2 separate regions of the Homo sapiens genome follow, and region 2 is linked to region 1. The links come from fine-mapping of genetic effects on gene expression. Tissue or cell type: whole blood. Region 1 holds a variant in brackets; the other region holds the start of a gene. All regions are shown on one strand. Distances are between the middles of the regions.

Region 1 (7,756 bases):
TTGTAAGGCATTTTGGTTGCACACTCCATTTAACCCTGAGGCTGCTGAAAATCAGTGCAAGGTGAATACGGCATTTGTAAGGCAGACCCAAGGAGATATCAGGCATAAATTGCAGAAGTTAGAAGCTCTGTAGGCATGAATGCTACTCAGCTTATTAAAGTGGCTACCAGGGTGTACATTAACGAGATCAGGAGGCAAAGAAGAAAGCTGATCAGAGGCTTAAGAAAGGCTAATTTACTAGCAGCAGCCCTTGTGGGAAGAGAAGCTGGCTTTGCAAAGAGGCATGGACGCAGGCGTGAACACAGTCACGGAAAAGGCTAGTCCGGACAGGAGTTTGAAAGCTGGCCAAGGCTAGAGAGAGATTTATGTGCACGGTGCAAAAGGAAAGGACACTAGAAGGATACACGTCAAAAGAATAAGGAGAATGGGCCGGGCATGGTGGCTGACGCTTGTAATCCCAGCACTTTGGGAGGCCGAGGCAGGTGGATCACGACGTCAGGAGGTCGAGACCATCCTGGCTAACACGGTGAAACCCTGTCTCTACTAAAAATACAAAAAAAAAAAAAAAAAAAAAAAAAAAAAGCCGGGCATGGTGGCAGGCACCTGTAGTCCCAGCTACTCGGGAGGCTGAGGCAGAAGAAAGGCGTGAACCCTGGAGGCGGAGCTTGCAGTGAGCTATCGCGCCACTGCACTCCAGCCTGGGTGACAGAGCAAGACTCCATCTCAAAAACATAAAAAGAATAAGGAGAATTGTCAAGGCCATGGTATGAAAAAAAAAAACCACCGGCCAAGGGCTACTGCACCCAGGAAAAACCCAAGACCCCCTGCACCTGCTGTGAAAGGCAGGATATAAAGTATCAGAAAACAGCTCAAATCTGCTCTAAAAGTGTCCAGTATTTAAGCTTTTATATAAACCAAGAGGAAAGATGGCTTAGTAGTAAACAAAAGCAGGCTGTTTGTGTACTTCCTACTCCAACAACCTGGTGTCAAATAAGAGAGTTCCTAAGGGCAGCAAGGTTCTGCCACATTTAGATCCCAAATTTCTTGCTCATGGCTAAGCCATTATACAAAGCCACAAAGAGGAGGAAAGAAAGAGCCTCTCCTCTAGGAGGCCAACCAGGAGAAGGCTTTTATTTATTTATTTTTTTTTGAAGCCACTCCACAAGTCACTCTATATTGCAAATTATACATAATAGTACACCTAATCAATATATAAATGTTATGGGTTAAACATCTACAACAAACAAAATAACATTTAACATCAAGAGAAAAGAAATGGGAAAAAAAGGTTAATGAACCAGTCCATGAAGAGCAACAGAGACAAAAAGAATCTCCTGGTCTGGGCCAGGCAGTCCAGTGGTCTTGCAAGGAACACCTTTGATGTGGGTAGAGCCTTTCGTGGCAGATGCCAGAGCCTTTCATGGCAGATGCCATGGAGCTTATCTTTTTTTTTTTTTTTTTTTTAAATTGATCATTCTTGGGTGTTTCTCGCAGAGGGGGATTTGGCAGGGTCATAGGACAATAGTGGAGGGAAGGCCAGCAGATAAACAAGTGAACAAAGGTCTCTGGTTTTCCTAGGCAGAGGACCCTGCGGCCTTCCGCAGTGTTTGTGTCCCTGGGTACTTGAGATTAGGGAGTGGTGATGACTCTTAACGAGCATGCTGCCTTCAAGCATCTGTTTAACAAAGCACATCTTGCACCACCCTTAATCCATTTAACCCTGAGTGGACACAGCACATGTTTCAGAGAGCACAGGGTTAGGGGTAAGGTCATAGATCAACAGCATCCCAAGGCAGAAGAATTTTTCTTAGTACAGAACAAAATGAAAAGTCTCCCATGTCTACTACTTTCTACACAGACACAGCAACCATCCGATTTCTCAATCTTTTCCCCACCTTTCCCCCTTTTCTATTCCACAAAACCGCCATTGTCATCATGGCCCGTTCTCAATGAGCTGTTGGGTACACCTCCCAGACGGGGTGGTGGCCGGGCAGAGGGGCTCCTCACTTCCCAGTAGAGGCGGCCGGGCAGAGGCACCCCCCACCTACCAGACGGGGCGGCTGGCCGGGCGGGGGCTGACCCCCCACCTCCCTCCCAGATGGGGCGGCTGGCCGGGCGGGGGGCTGACCCCTACCTCCCTCCCGGATGGGGTGGCTGCCGGGCGGAGACGCTCCTCACTTCCCAGACCGGGCGGCTGCCAGGCGGAGGGGCTCCTCACCTCTCAGACGGGGCGGCTGCCGGGCGGAGGGGCTCCTCACTTCTCAGACGGGGCGGCCGGGCAGAGACGCTCCTCACCTCCCAGACGGGGCGGCGGGGCAGAGGCGCTCCCCACATCTCAGACGATGGGGGGCCGGGCAGAGACGCTCCTCACTTCCTAGATGGGATGGCGGCCGGGCAGAGACGCTCCCAGGAGAAGGGGTTTAAAGAAATCAAAAAAGCTTGACTCAGGCCCCAGCTTTAGGACTGCCGGATAAACTAACTAAGCCTATCTTCTTGTATGTCCACAAGTGAAAGGGAGGCCATAAGGGTTCTAACTCAAGCCATAAGTTTATGGCATCACCCAGTGACATACTTATCCAGGCAATTAGACTTTGTGGCACTTGGATGGCCTCTTTGTTTTAAAGCTATTAAAGCACTAGCTGCCACTGCCCTACTGGTGCAAGAAGCTAATAAACTGACTTTAGAGACTGTGAATAGCCTAAACCTGGCTACATTGCTCCTCATCAAGTCAGTGCCAGGAGACCCCTTTCATTTCTGTGTCAACATGATAGATGAAGTTTTCTCAAGCCAGAGAGATTTGATAGCCCCTCAGGGAAACTGGACATTAAATATTTTACTGATGGAAGCAGTTTCATACTAAAGTTTTATGAAAGACTTTGTAAGGCATTTTGATTGTGCACTCCATTTAACCCTGAGGCTGCTGAAAATCAGTGATTTTCACTAAAATCACTAAAGGGAGTCTGCCGAGCTGGGTATGCAGTGGTGACTTTGGACTCAGTAGTAGAGGTGCAGTCTCTGCCTACAGAAACTTCTGCTTAGAAAGCAGAGCTAATATCTCTGACAAGAGCTCTCTGGCTAGCAAAAGACCAAAAGACAAATATTTACACAGATTCCAAATATGCTTCTGCCACTTTGCATGTTCATGAGGTGATTTACAAAGAAAAAAGACTTTTAACTGCTGAAAGTAAAGAAATAAAGTACAAGGAAGAAATTCTACAGCTCTTAAATGCTGTATAGGACCCAAAAGAGGTGGCAGTGATGCA[C/T]TGCAAGGGGAACCAAAAAAGGAAGAACACTAAAGGCTAAAAAAATAAAAATAAAAAAGCAGACAAAGAGGCAAAGCAGGCTGCAATGACAACTCCACCTTCTAAAGAGGAAGTCTTAGCTATGCTTCTCTTCCCAGAGATTCCCCTCCCGGAGATCCCAAGCTATGCTCCAAGTGAAAGGGCTTGTTTTGCCCAGAAAAATAAGAACTACACTAAAGGAAGATGGTAAAAATTCTCCAGTGGGAGGCTAGCCATACCAGAAATGGTGACCTCCAGATTTGTAAAACAATTCCACCAAAGAACTCACATAAAAAAAAAAAAACAGCACTAAAGACATTATTAAGGCATCATTTCTATGCACCATGGCTCACTGCTATTACTCAAGCCATTTGTAAACAAACAGTGTTTAACTTGCACTCAGAACAATCCATGACAAGGAGGGCCTACTCCGCCCCTGGGAGTTCAGGAAACAGGAGCCAGGGAGCCGTGCCCTGTGAAAAACTGCTTATAGACTTCACCTAATTGCCCTGAGAGGGAGGGCTATCAGTACATGTTGGTGTTCATTTGCACCTTTTCAGGATAAGTCAAGGCCTTCCTCACCCAGACAGGGAAGGCACTAGAGGTGACCAAGGTGTTGTTAAAAGACATTATTCCCAGATTTGGACTGTCTCTAACTCTAAGATCAAACAATGGACCAACATTTGTGGCTGAAATAGTTCAGGACTTTACTTGACTATTAAAATAAAGTGGAAATTACATACAGCCTACAGGCCGCAGAGCTCAGGTAAAGTGGAGTGCATAAACCAGACACTCAAACAGCTGCTGAAGAAATTTTGTCAAACTCATCAAAAGTAGGATCAGGTCTTGTCTGTTGTCCTCCTCCGAGTCAGGTGCACTCCCACCAAACAACTGGGTATTCGCCCTGTAAGATTTTATTCAGCCAGCCACCCCCCATCATAAGTCAGATTAAAGGTAATCTCTGTAAACTAGAAGAACTAACTTTAAGAAGGCAAATTCAGGCTTTAAGTATGGCCATGCAAAAATGCATGGCTAGGTATAGAAAAAAAATGCCTATAAGTCAAACAGACCCAGTACACCCTTTCAAACCTAAGGATTTTGTTTAAGTTAAAAAATGGAGGCAGGGTGTGGTGGCTCACGCCTGTAATCCAAGCATTTTGGGAGGCCAAGGCAGGTGGATCACATGGTCAGGAGATCGAGACCATCCTGGCTAACACGGTGAAAACCCATCTCTACTAAAAATACAAAAAATTAGCCCGGCATGATGGCGGGCCCCTGTAGTCCCAGCTACTCAGGAGTCTGAGGCAGGAGAATGGCGTGAACCCAGGAGGTGGAGCTTGCAGTGAGCTGAGATTGCGCCACTGCACTCCAGCCTCGGCGACAGAGCGAGACTCCATCTCAAAAAAAAAAAAAAAGGAAAAAAAATGGAATCCAACCACACTAGGACCCATATAGGATAGGCCCCATATCGTGATCATGCCTAGTCCCACTGCTGTTAAAGTTGCACGTTTCACACCTTGGATTCACCATAGTCGGCTGAAACCAGTGGCAGCAGTGACTCCCAACGACGAACAGTGGATTAGCCAACAAGACCCAGATTGCCCCACCCGAATAGTCCCATGGTGAAACCCAACCACCGGTAAGAAGGACAACTGCCCTGCTCTGACCACACTGGAGGCTGGTCAGTCTATGCACGGCTGAAGCTTGAGGATCCTGTAAGCTCTGCTCTAGTCACATCCTGGAAGCTGACTAGTCTACGCACAGCCAAAGCTAAGGGGACAATCTCCGGATAAGTAAATGTGGATACAATTTATAAGCCTAGTTATAATTCTGTCAATACTGATTGTTCTGTTGTTATGTTATTACTGCAAATACTGCAAACGTCTATGCCCAGAGGAAGGTTTGCCATGCCCATGTGTAGTGTAAGCATGTTTCTATTACATACACTGACGTTGTTACCATTTCTGCCTATACTAGAAGGGGAGAAATCCCTAGAAGAATGCCCACACTGTGTACACACTACCTGGATAAGGAATACCCTAGTTAAACCTCTACTGTACGTTACTGACTATGAATGTACAGGAACAAAGTTAGGAACCTGCACATACAACCGGAAACAGTCTGCAATAGTTTAACACAAGAGAGACTTAGCAGCAACAGTCCTAAACATCTGTACAGAAAACCACAAATCAGATGTCGAGACTGAACATTCAGTGGTCTATGCTAACACAGCTCCAACACTTACATTCAGGAAGGACTGCTCTGCTAATTAGTATGTCAACCAAACCAGATTGTAAGACAAGAACATACAATCCTTTAAATTTTACTATCTTAAAGCCAGAGCTACCTTCTTGGTCTACAGGACAGATGACACTATTATGAGTTGATAGACAAGGAGCAGAACTTGGAGTTCCACTACTAATTGTCAAAAAGACTAGAAGGACTCAAATGTATCCAACCCCACAATTCCAGGTCCATAAGTCATTCTATAAGCATTTTGATCAGTCAATGCTGAAGCTTCCCCCCATCAACCAAAAACTTATTTGCTCAACTAGCTGAAAACATAGCTGGCAGCTTAGGAATTTCCTCATGCTATGTATGTAGAAGAACTAATATGGAAGACCAGTGGCCATGGGAGGCAAAGGAATTAATGCCACAAGATCCCTTCACTTAACACTGCCAGTGAACCAACAGCCTCAGCCAGTGTTTGGTTGTCAACTACCTCCATAATTGGAAAGTACTGTATCACCCGATGAGGAAAGGCTTTCACAGAGGCAGTGTGAGAAACAACCTGCCTAGGGCAACAGTATTGTGATGAGACTAAAAACAAAACTCTATGGAGATCCAAACCCTTTCTCTCAATTCTCTACTCTAAGCCACACTTGGCATCAGCTAGAGGCTCCAAATTCTTGAAAGGCACCCTCTGGCCTATATTGGATCTGTGGAGCACAGGCATATCAGCAACTGCCAGCTAAATGGACAGGGGCATGTGCGTTAGGAACAATCAAGCCATCATTCTTTCTAATTCCTCTAAAGCAAGAGGAACTCTTAGGGTATCCAGTTTATGATAAAAATAAAAAAACAACTAGAAGCATAATAACAAAAAGAGACACAAATATCAAAAAAGATGTGGACATAGGAAACTAGAAAGATAATAAATGGCCTCCTGAAAGAATCATTAAATGTTATGGGCCAGCTACCTAGGCGCAAGATGGGTCATGGAGGTACCGTACCCCAATCTATATGCTCAACCGCATCATAAGGTTGCAGGCAGTCCTTGAAATTATAACCAATGAAACCTCAAGGGCACTAGATTTATTGGCAATACAAGCAACACAAATGAGGCATGCCATATATCAAAATAGGCTGGGTTTAGATTACCTATTAGCCTCAGAAGGAGGAGTATGTGAAAATTTTAATTTAACCAACTGTTGCCTAGAAATTGATGATAATGACCGAGCTGTCATGGAAATCACAGCTAGAATGCACGAGTTCACCTATGTTCCAGTTCAAACTTGATCTGGGTGGTCCCTGGATTCCTTGTTTGGAGGATGGTTCTCAACCTTAAAAAAAAAAAAATTAAAACCCTCATTGGTGGGTTCTTGCTTATTTTTGGCATCTGCCTCATCCTCCCTTGCCTTTTACCTCTGTTTATTAGGAGTATTCAGTCAACTATAGAGGCAATAGTAACCAAAAAAACTACCGTGCAGTTGATGGCATTAACAAGATTATCAGCCACTGCCAGTAGAAGAAGAAGCACAGCCCTGTGAAGAGGTGACAGATAGTGGTGCTTTCTGTTAACATCTTTGTTATAAAAAGCACCAAAGGGAGGAATGGAACAGGAATAAAAAGAAATTAAAGAATGTGTAAACAGAAACTCGGTTGTATGTATGAGAAAGAGAAAGAGCTGGAGTCCTTTAAAAATTAACTGCCTGTTTTTCTGTGGCTAGTGAGCCTTATCTCTTCTTTCCCAGGCATTGTGAAGACTCTGTTTCTCTAGCTGTGCAGCTGCAAGATCACTAGACAGATCAACTCAAGTCATAAAACATGTTTTTCCTTGAAAAGTAAGAAATGATGTAATGCATGTTTCAATTAATTGAATAACTCTCTTTGTTTCTCACTTCTGTAATATGCTTCCCCCTGCACAGATCTCCCCCTGCCCCACAAAATGCTTAAAAGGTGACTTAGCTCTTTGTTCAGGGCTCAGTCCTTTGGATGTAAATCTGACTGGGTCGGTGCACCTAAATAATAAATATCCTCCTCAATCCCTCAGTATCTCTGATTCCTTAAAATATCCCACTACAGAACTCCTGATCTCAGGTGATCTGCCTGCCTCAACCTCCAAAAGTGCTGGGATTACAGGCATGAGCCATTGCATGTGGCCTAAAAAATAATTTCTTTAAAATGGTATACTCTGCATCAACATTGACACAAAAGCTTCTGTTAAACTCTGACACCCACTCAGATGTCACCTC
Region 2 (7,263 bases), 130 kb before region 1:
TCCATCTTGAGTTATTTTTTGTGTATGGTGTAAGGAAGGGATCCAGGTTCAATTTCCTGCATATGACTAGCCAGTTCTCCCAGCACAATTTATTGCAAATTCTTTCCCCATTGCTTCTTTTTGTCAGCTTTGTCAAAGGTCAGATGGTTGCAGGTGTGCAGCTTGATTTCTGGCCCTCTATTCTGTTCCATTGATCTATGTTTCTGTTCTTGTACTAGTACCATGCTGTTTTGGTGCTGTAGCCCTGTAGTATAGCTGGAAGTTGAGTAGCGTGATGCCTCCAGCTTTGTTATTTTTGCTTAAGATTGCCTTGGCTATTCAGGCTTTTTTGGTTTCATATAAATTTTGAAATAATTACTTTAAATTCTATGAGAATGTCAGCGGTTGTTTATTGGGAATAGCATTGAATATATAAATTGCTTTTGGCAGTATGGACATTTTAATGATATTGATTCTTTCTATTCATGAGCATGGAATGTGTTTTGTTTGTGTCATTTCTGATTTCTTTGAGCAGCAGTTTGTAGTTCTCCTTGAGATCTTTCACCTCCCTAGTTAGGTGTATTCCTAGATATTTTATTCTTTTTGTGGCAACTGTGAATGTGAGTTTGTTCATGATTTGGCTCTCGGCTTGAGTGTTGTTTGTGTATAGGAATGCTGGTAATTTTTGCACATTGATTTTGCATTCTGAGACTTTGCCAAAGTTGTTTATCAGCTTAAGGAGCTTTTGAGCTGAGACTATGGGGTTTTCTATATATAGGATCATGTAATCTGCAAACAAGAATAGTTTGATTTCCTTTCTTCGTATTTGGATGCCCTTTCTTTCTTTCTCTTGCCTGATTACCCAGACCAGAACTTCCAGTACTATGTTGAATAGGAATGATGAGAGACGACATTCTTGTCTCATTCTGGTTTTCAAGGAGAATGCTTCTAGCTTTCGCCCATTCAGTATAATGTTGGCTGTGGGTATGTCATAGATGGCTCTTATCATTTTGAGGTGTCTTTTTTTTCTATACCTAGTTTATTGAGAGTTTTTAACATGAATAGATGTTGAACTGTAATGAAAGTCTTTTCTGCATCTATTGAAATAATCATGTGGTTTTTGCCCCTAGTTCTGTTTCTGTAATGAATCATATTTATTGATTTGGATATGTTGAACCAAACTTGCATCCCAGAGATGAAGCCTACCTGATCATGGTGGATAAGTTTTTTGATTTGCTGCTGAATTTACTTTGCTAGTATTTTGTTGAAGATTTTTACATCAATGTTCATCAAGGATGTTGACATGAAGCTTTCTTTTTTGTTGTATCTTTTTCAGGTTTTCATGTCAAGATGGTTGGTCCTGGCCTCATAGAATGAGTTTAGGGAGAGTCCCTTCTCCTACATTTTTTGGAATAGTTTCAGTAGGAACAGTACCAGCTCTTCTTTGTACATCTGGGAGAATTCAGCTGTGAGTCCACCTGGTCCTGGACTTTTATTGATTGGTAGGCTATTTATTACTGCCTCAATTTCAGAACTCACTATTGTTCTGTTCAGGGATTCAGTTTCTTCCTGGTTCAGTCTTGATAGGGTGTATGCTTCCAGAAATTTTTCCATTTCTTCTAGATTTTCTAGTTCATGTGCATCGACTTGTTCATAATATTCTCTGATGGTTCTCTTCTCTGAGGTCAGTGGTAATATCCCCCTTATTGTTTCTGATTATGTTTATTTGAATCTTCTCTCTCTTCTTATTAGTCTAGCTAGTGGTCTTTTTAGTTATTTTTTCCAAAAAAATACTTCCTGGATTTGTTGGTCTTTTGAATGTGTTTTCATGTCACTGTCTTGTTCAGTGCAGCTCTGATTTTGATTATTTCTTGTTTTCTTCTAGCTTTGGGATTTGTTTGCTTTTGGTTTTCTAGTTCTTTTATTTATTTATTTTATTGTATTTATTTATTTTTTGAGATGGAGTCTCGCTCTGTTGCCCAGGCTGGAGTGCAGTGGTGCAATCTCGGCTCACTGCAACCTCCGCCTCCTAGGTTAAAGCGATTCTCCTGCCTCAGTTTCCCAAGTAGCTGGGATGGACTACAGGGATGTGCCACCACACCTGGCTAATTTTTTGTATTTTTAGTAGAGATGGGGTTTCACCATGTTAGCCAGGATGGTCTCGATCTCCTGACCTTGTGATCCGCCCGCCTCGGCCTCCCAAAGTGCTAGGTTTACAGGCGTGAGCCACCGTGCCTGGCCTTGTTCTCTAGATCTTTTAGTTGTGATGTTATGTTGTTAACTTGAGATCTTCCTAACTTTTTGATGTGAGGCTTTAGTGTCAGAATGTAGTGAGATCAGATGTATTAAGTAAGGCCAGGCGTGGTGGCCGATTCCTGCAATCCCTACACTTCTGGAGGCCAACACGGGAGAATCACTTGAGCCCAGGAGTTTGAGACCAGACTGGGAAACATGTGGAAAACTTGTCTGTACCGAAAATACAAAAATTAGCCAGGTGTGCCAGCACACACCTGTGATTTCAGCTACTTGGGAGGCTGAGGTGGGAGGATCATCTAAGTCTGGGGAGGTTGAGGCTGCAGTAAGCCATGATGGTGCCACTGCACTCCAGCCTGGGTGACAGAGTGAGACCCTGTCAAAAACAAACAAGCAAGCAACAGATATTTTATGCCCTTCTCTGGGTAGGAAGCAAAATGAACAGAACTCAGCATTTTAAAATTTAAATTTTATTTTTGAATTTTAATCTATTTATTTATGTATTTTGAGATCAGGTTATGAAACTGGCTAATTTTTGTATTTTGGGTTGAGATGATGTTTTACCATGTTGCCCAGGATGGTCTCGAACTCCTGGGATGAAGCGATGCACCTGCCTTGGCCTCCTAAAGTACTGGGATTACAGGCGTGATTCATTGCCAGGTTGCAATTTTTTTTTTAATCTCTTGTCTTTCTGAGAGTTTCGTGGCAGAGAGTTTGGTTCATTTAAGTTCATTCTAAATAGACATTTAGGACGTTAACTTCTGGCCTCATGGACTCTGAGGTTACAAGTCCCCTGGTCTATCACAGGACCATACACATAAGAAATAAAAAAAAATCGGCTGGGCGTGGTGGCTCACGCCTGTAATCCCAACACTTTGGGAGACTGAGGCGGCTGGATCACCTGAGGTCAGGAGTTTGAGACCAGCCTGGCCAACATGGCGAAACCCCGTGTCTACTAACAATAAAAAATTAGCCGGGCGAGGTGGTGCGTGCCTGTAATACCAGTTCCTCAGGAGGTTGAGGTACTAGAATCGCTTGAACCCGGGAGGCGGAGATGGCAGTGAGCCAAGATTGCCCCACTGCACTCTAGCCTGGGTGACAAAGCAAGACTCCGTCTCAAAAAAAAAAAAAAAAGACTCCAATCAAAAAGCAAATAAGTAAATAAACAAACATAACGTTTATAATAAGTAATTGTGTTACAAAGAAATATAGTTATGTCCCCTAAACCAAGGTCTCACAGAAAAGGAAGCCTGTGCACAGACTGGGTCAACTGTGTCTTCTCTACTGTCCCTACCTCAAAGTTGGCTTCTTCCTTGTTGCCTAGAAAATCGTCGCCCTGACTGGGTATGATTGTTCTTTGATCAGTATATGCATATATATGTATTTTTTCATTCTTTCCTGGCTGATTATTGCGTGGGTGGTTGTTTGGCGCCTCCTAGCGGCCGGCTAGCAGTACAGGCCTCCTCCAGAGGCCGCTTGGGCTGACGGCACGGCTTGTGGCCCACAGGGGCGGCCACCTTTCTAGAGTTCTCTTGTCCTCTGGAGCTCCAGTGGCAGCTGCCGAGGGAGGGACAGCCCCCGCTGTGAGCTGAGCAGAGCTCGGGAGTCCTGCAGACTTCAGCAGAACAGTCCCGATGGTGCCAGAGCTCTGGCGCGTCCCTTGTGAGTCATAGCTCTGGCGTGTAGGGCTGTGGAGGGGAGGCTGTTACCGTGCTCCCGGCATGAGCTTAGTGTGGGGCTGCCCGGGCTGGTCCCCAGCTCACCGCAGCTGCGGAGGCCCGACCCTCGGAACCCACCAGGCATGATGCAGGGGGCCGGGGACACCCCCCAGGCCCGGTTGCGGGCCCATGTGTGTCCTGGCCGTTTGAGGCTCTGGCCGATTTCTTTTCCCAAGTCCCCATGGAGAATCAGGGACCGTCCTGTGCCATCTTCCGAGAGCCTGGAAGGGTCCGCCCGTGGGCTTTCCGAGCGCCGAAGGGGCCACATGCTGCTCTGAGGGTGCCGCAGGTTCGTGGGGCTCCCTTGCTTGGTGTCCACCCCCTCTGGTTTCCTCCTCTTCCCACCCTGCGGGTGGCTCGTCGCCCTGGCTGGGACGCCGCTGTGGGAGCGTGGTGGGATGGCTGAGGCGCGGGCGTCAGAGGGTGTGGCCCGGCAGCCCCCGTTTCAGGGGTGGCTGTGTGGTCTGGAAGTGGCGGTCCAGGTCCTGGGCCTCTCCCACTCAGCAGCGGGGAGGAGGGGTCGGCGGGGAGTAGGGGCCGGTCGCCCCCCCTTGAGCTCTTCCCCGTCTTAGTGGACCAGCAGACAGTGTGGGAGAGCGCTGGGAAGGAAGGTTGGCGGAGTTATACTCCAGACGGACGGGCTCAGGCCCCGCGCGCCACACTCGGCCACACTTGGCGCGTAGTGTGGACCCGGTGGGCCTCTGCCCTCGCCACCGGCTGGCTTCTCTGTCCAGCCGCTGGGTCGACCAGATGTCAGCCCCAAGGTTAGGGTTTGGCCTCCAGCTTGAGATGTTTAAGACGGACTAGATAGCTCTCGCCCGCGGCAGTACCGCTTAGGTCCAGCAGAGGGTGCGATTACGGCTCACGCGCCCTCCACCTGCCCGGACTCACCCAGGTCATCCTCCCTTTTCTTTTTTCTTTTCTTTTCTCTCTTCTCTTCTCTTCTCTTCTCTTCTCTTCTCTTCTCTTCTCTTCTCTTCTCTTCTCTTCTCTTCTCTTCTCTTTCTCTTTCTGTCTGTTTTTCTTTCTTTGAGTTTTCGCTCTTGTTGCCCAGGCTGGGGTGCAATGGGGCAATCTCGGCTTACTGCAACCTCCACCTCCCGAGTTCAAGCGATTCTCCCGCCTCAGCCTCCTGAGTAGCTGGGATTACAGGCGTGCGCCACCACACCCAGCTAATTTTGTATTTGTAGTAGAGATGGGGTCTCCATGTTGGTCAGGCTGGTCTGGAACTCCCGACCTCAGGTGATTCGTCCACCTTGGCCTCCCAAAGCACTGGGATTACAGGTGTGAGCCACCATGCCCGGCCCCATCCTCCTGTTTCTGCCTCCAGAGTAGCTGAGGCTCGGGATCTTTCTGGGTTTTTTTTTCTTTTTTTCTAGCCCCACTTTGAGTTTGTTTCCACGGTACATTGAGTTACTATTGTTTTGTTTTGTTTTGTTTTCTCTCTTAAGCACCTTCCTGCACACTGAAGTTGCTGTTTTAAATTTCTTCTTTCATACGTGTGTGTGTGTGTGTGTGTGTGTGTATGTTTTTTTAAATGAGGTCTTCTTAGTCACCCAGGCTGAAGTGCAGGTGTGTGATCACAGCTCACTGCAGCCTGGACCTCCTTGGGCTCAGGGGATCCTCCGTCTTAGTTCTCCCAGTAGCTGGTACTACAGTCACGTACCACCACACTGGCTCTTTATTTTGCATTTTTTACTTTTTATTTTTGTAGAAATGAGGTTCTGCCATGTTTCTCAGACTGGTCTCGAACTCCTGTGATCAAGCAATCCACCAGCCTTGACCTCCCAAAGTGCTGGGATTACAGGCATGCACCATCCTGCCTGGCTGGCTGGCTATCTATCTATCTATCTGTCTATCATCTCTCTCTGTCTGTCCAGCTCTGTCTATCTGGCTGGCTCTGTCTCTGTCTTTCTGATCTATCTATCTATCATCTTTTTTTTTTTTTTTTTTTTTTTTTTGAGACAATCTCACACTGTCACCCAGGCTGGAGTGCAGTGGCATGATCTCAGCTCACTGCAACCTCCACCTCCTGGGTTCAAGTGATTCTCCTGCCTCAGCCTCCCGAGTAGCTGGGACTACAGGTGTGCGCCACCACGCCCAGCTAATTTTTGTGTTTTTAGTAGAGATGGGGTTTTACAATGTTGGCCAGGATGATCTCGATCTCTTGACCTTGTGATCCGCCCACCTCAGCCTCCCAAAGTTCTGGGATTACAGGCGTGAGCCACTGGCACCCAGCCTGTATCATCTTTTTAGTAGAGATGTGATCTTGCTATGTTGTCCATGCTCTGGATATATATTTCTTTTTTAACTTTAATTATTATTTTTTAATAGAGATGCTGTCTCACCATGTTGGCCCCGGATAGTCTTGGACTCCTGGGTTCCAGGTATCCTCCGTGGCCTCCAAAAGTGCTGGGATTACAGGTGTGAGCCACTGTGCACGGTCTGGTCATGTTTTTGATGTGTTGATTCTTTCCAGTCCAGATGCATAATCTCATGTCTGAACATTCCTGCTGGTGTCATTATGACATATGACTTTACCCAGCACCAGAGTGATTTGGTGCCCCTGCCCTGGCCTAGCCCATGGAAGGGATTGTGACATATCCCTGGACCCAGTACCGAGGTGGTGTGACTATTCTACTGCCTTGGCACTACCCACAGGGGACATTTTGACATCACTACATCTTGTACCCAGGTGGTGTGAATCTTCTCTCCAGCCTTGGCTCTTCCACAGGGGACATTGTGTCATATGGCTGGGCCCCACACATAGGTTATATGACTCTCCTGCCTGTGCCCTGCCCATGTGGGCCACTGTGACTTTTGCTGAGTCCAACACCCAGGTGATGTAACTCTACTGCCTAGGTCCTGCCTACAGAAGATCTTGTGACATATCCCTGCACCCATCACACAGGTAATATGGCTCTCTTCTCCTGCCTGGCTCCTGCTTACAGAAGGGATTGTGATGTATTACTGGGCTCAGCACCTAGCTCACATGACTCTCTGCCTCTTTCTTTCTAGGTTCTGCCCAAAGAGGATATTGTGACATGTCACTGGGCCTAATACTATGCTGACATACTCTTTTTTTTTTTTTTTTTTTTTTTTATTGATCATTCTTGGGTGTTTCTCGCAGAGGGGGATTTGGCAGGGTCATAGGACAATAGTGGAGGGAAGGTCAGCAGATAAACAAGTGAACAAAGGTCTCTGGTTTTCCTAGGCAGAGGACCCTGTGGCCTTCCGCAGTGTTTGTGTCCCTGGGTACTTGAGATTAGGGAGTGGTGATGACTCTTAACGAGCATGCTGCCTTCAAGCATCT

The links. PIP is the estimated chance that this variant, and not a neighbour inherited with it, causes the effect.
Region 2: LINC00664 starts here. The variant in region 1 is fine-mapped to the expression of LINC00664 in whole blood (TOPMed, PIP 0.90).

The regions. Positions count from the first base shown.
Region 1 is chr19:21,605,071-21,612,826 of GRCh38, forward strand. All of the region lies in intron 3 of LOC105372323 (a long non-coding RNA gene), which reads left to right. Among named protein-coding and RNA genes, the nearest start is that of ZNF429, 100 kb to the left of the region's middle. The variant C/T (reference allele first, on the strand shown) is at 3,264.
Region 2 is chr19:21,479,293-21,486,555 of GRCh38, forward strand. LINC00664 (long intergenic non-protein coding RNA 664) reads left to right here and starts at 4,423. Exons shown (of 11, transcript NR_037194.1): 1 at 4,423-4,714; 2 at 6,813-6,861.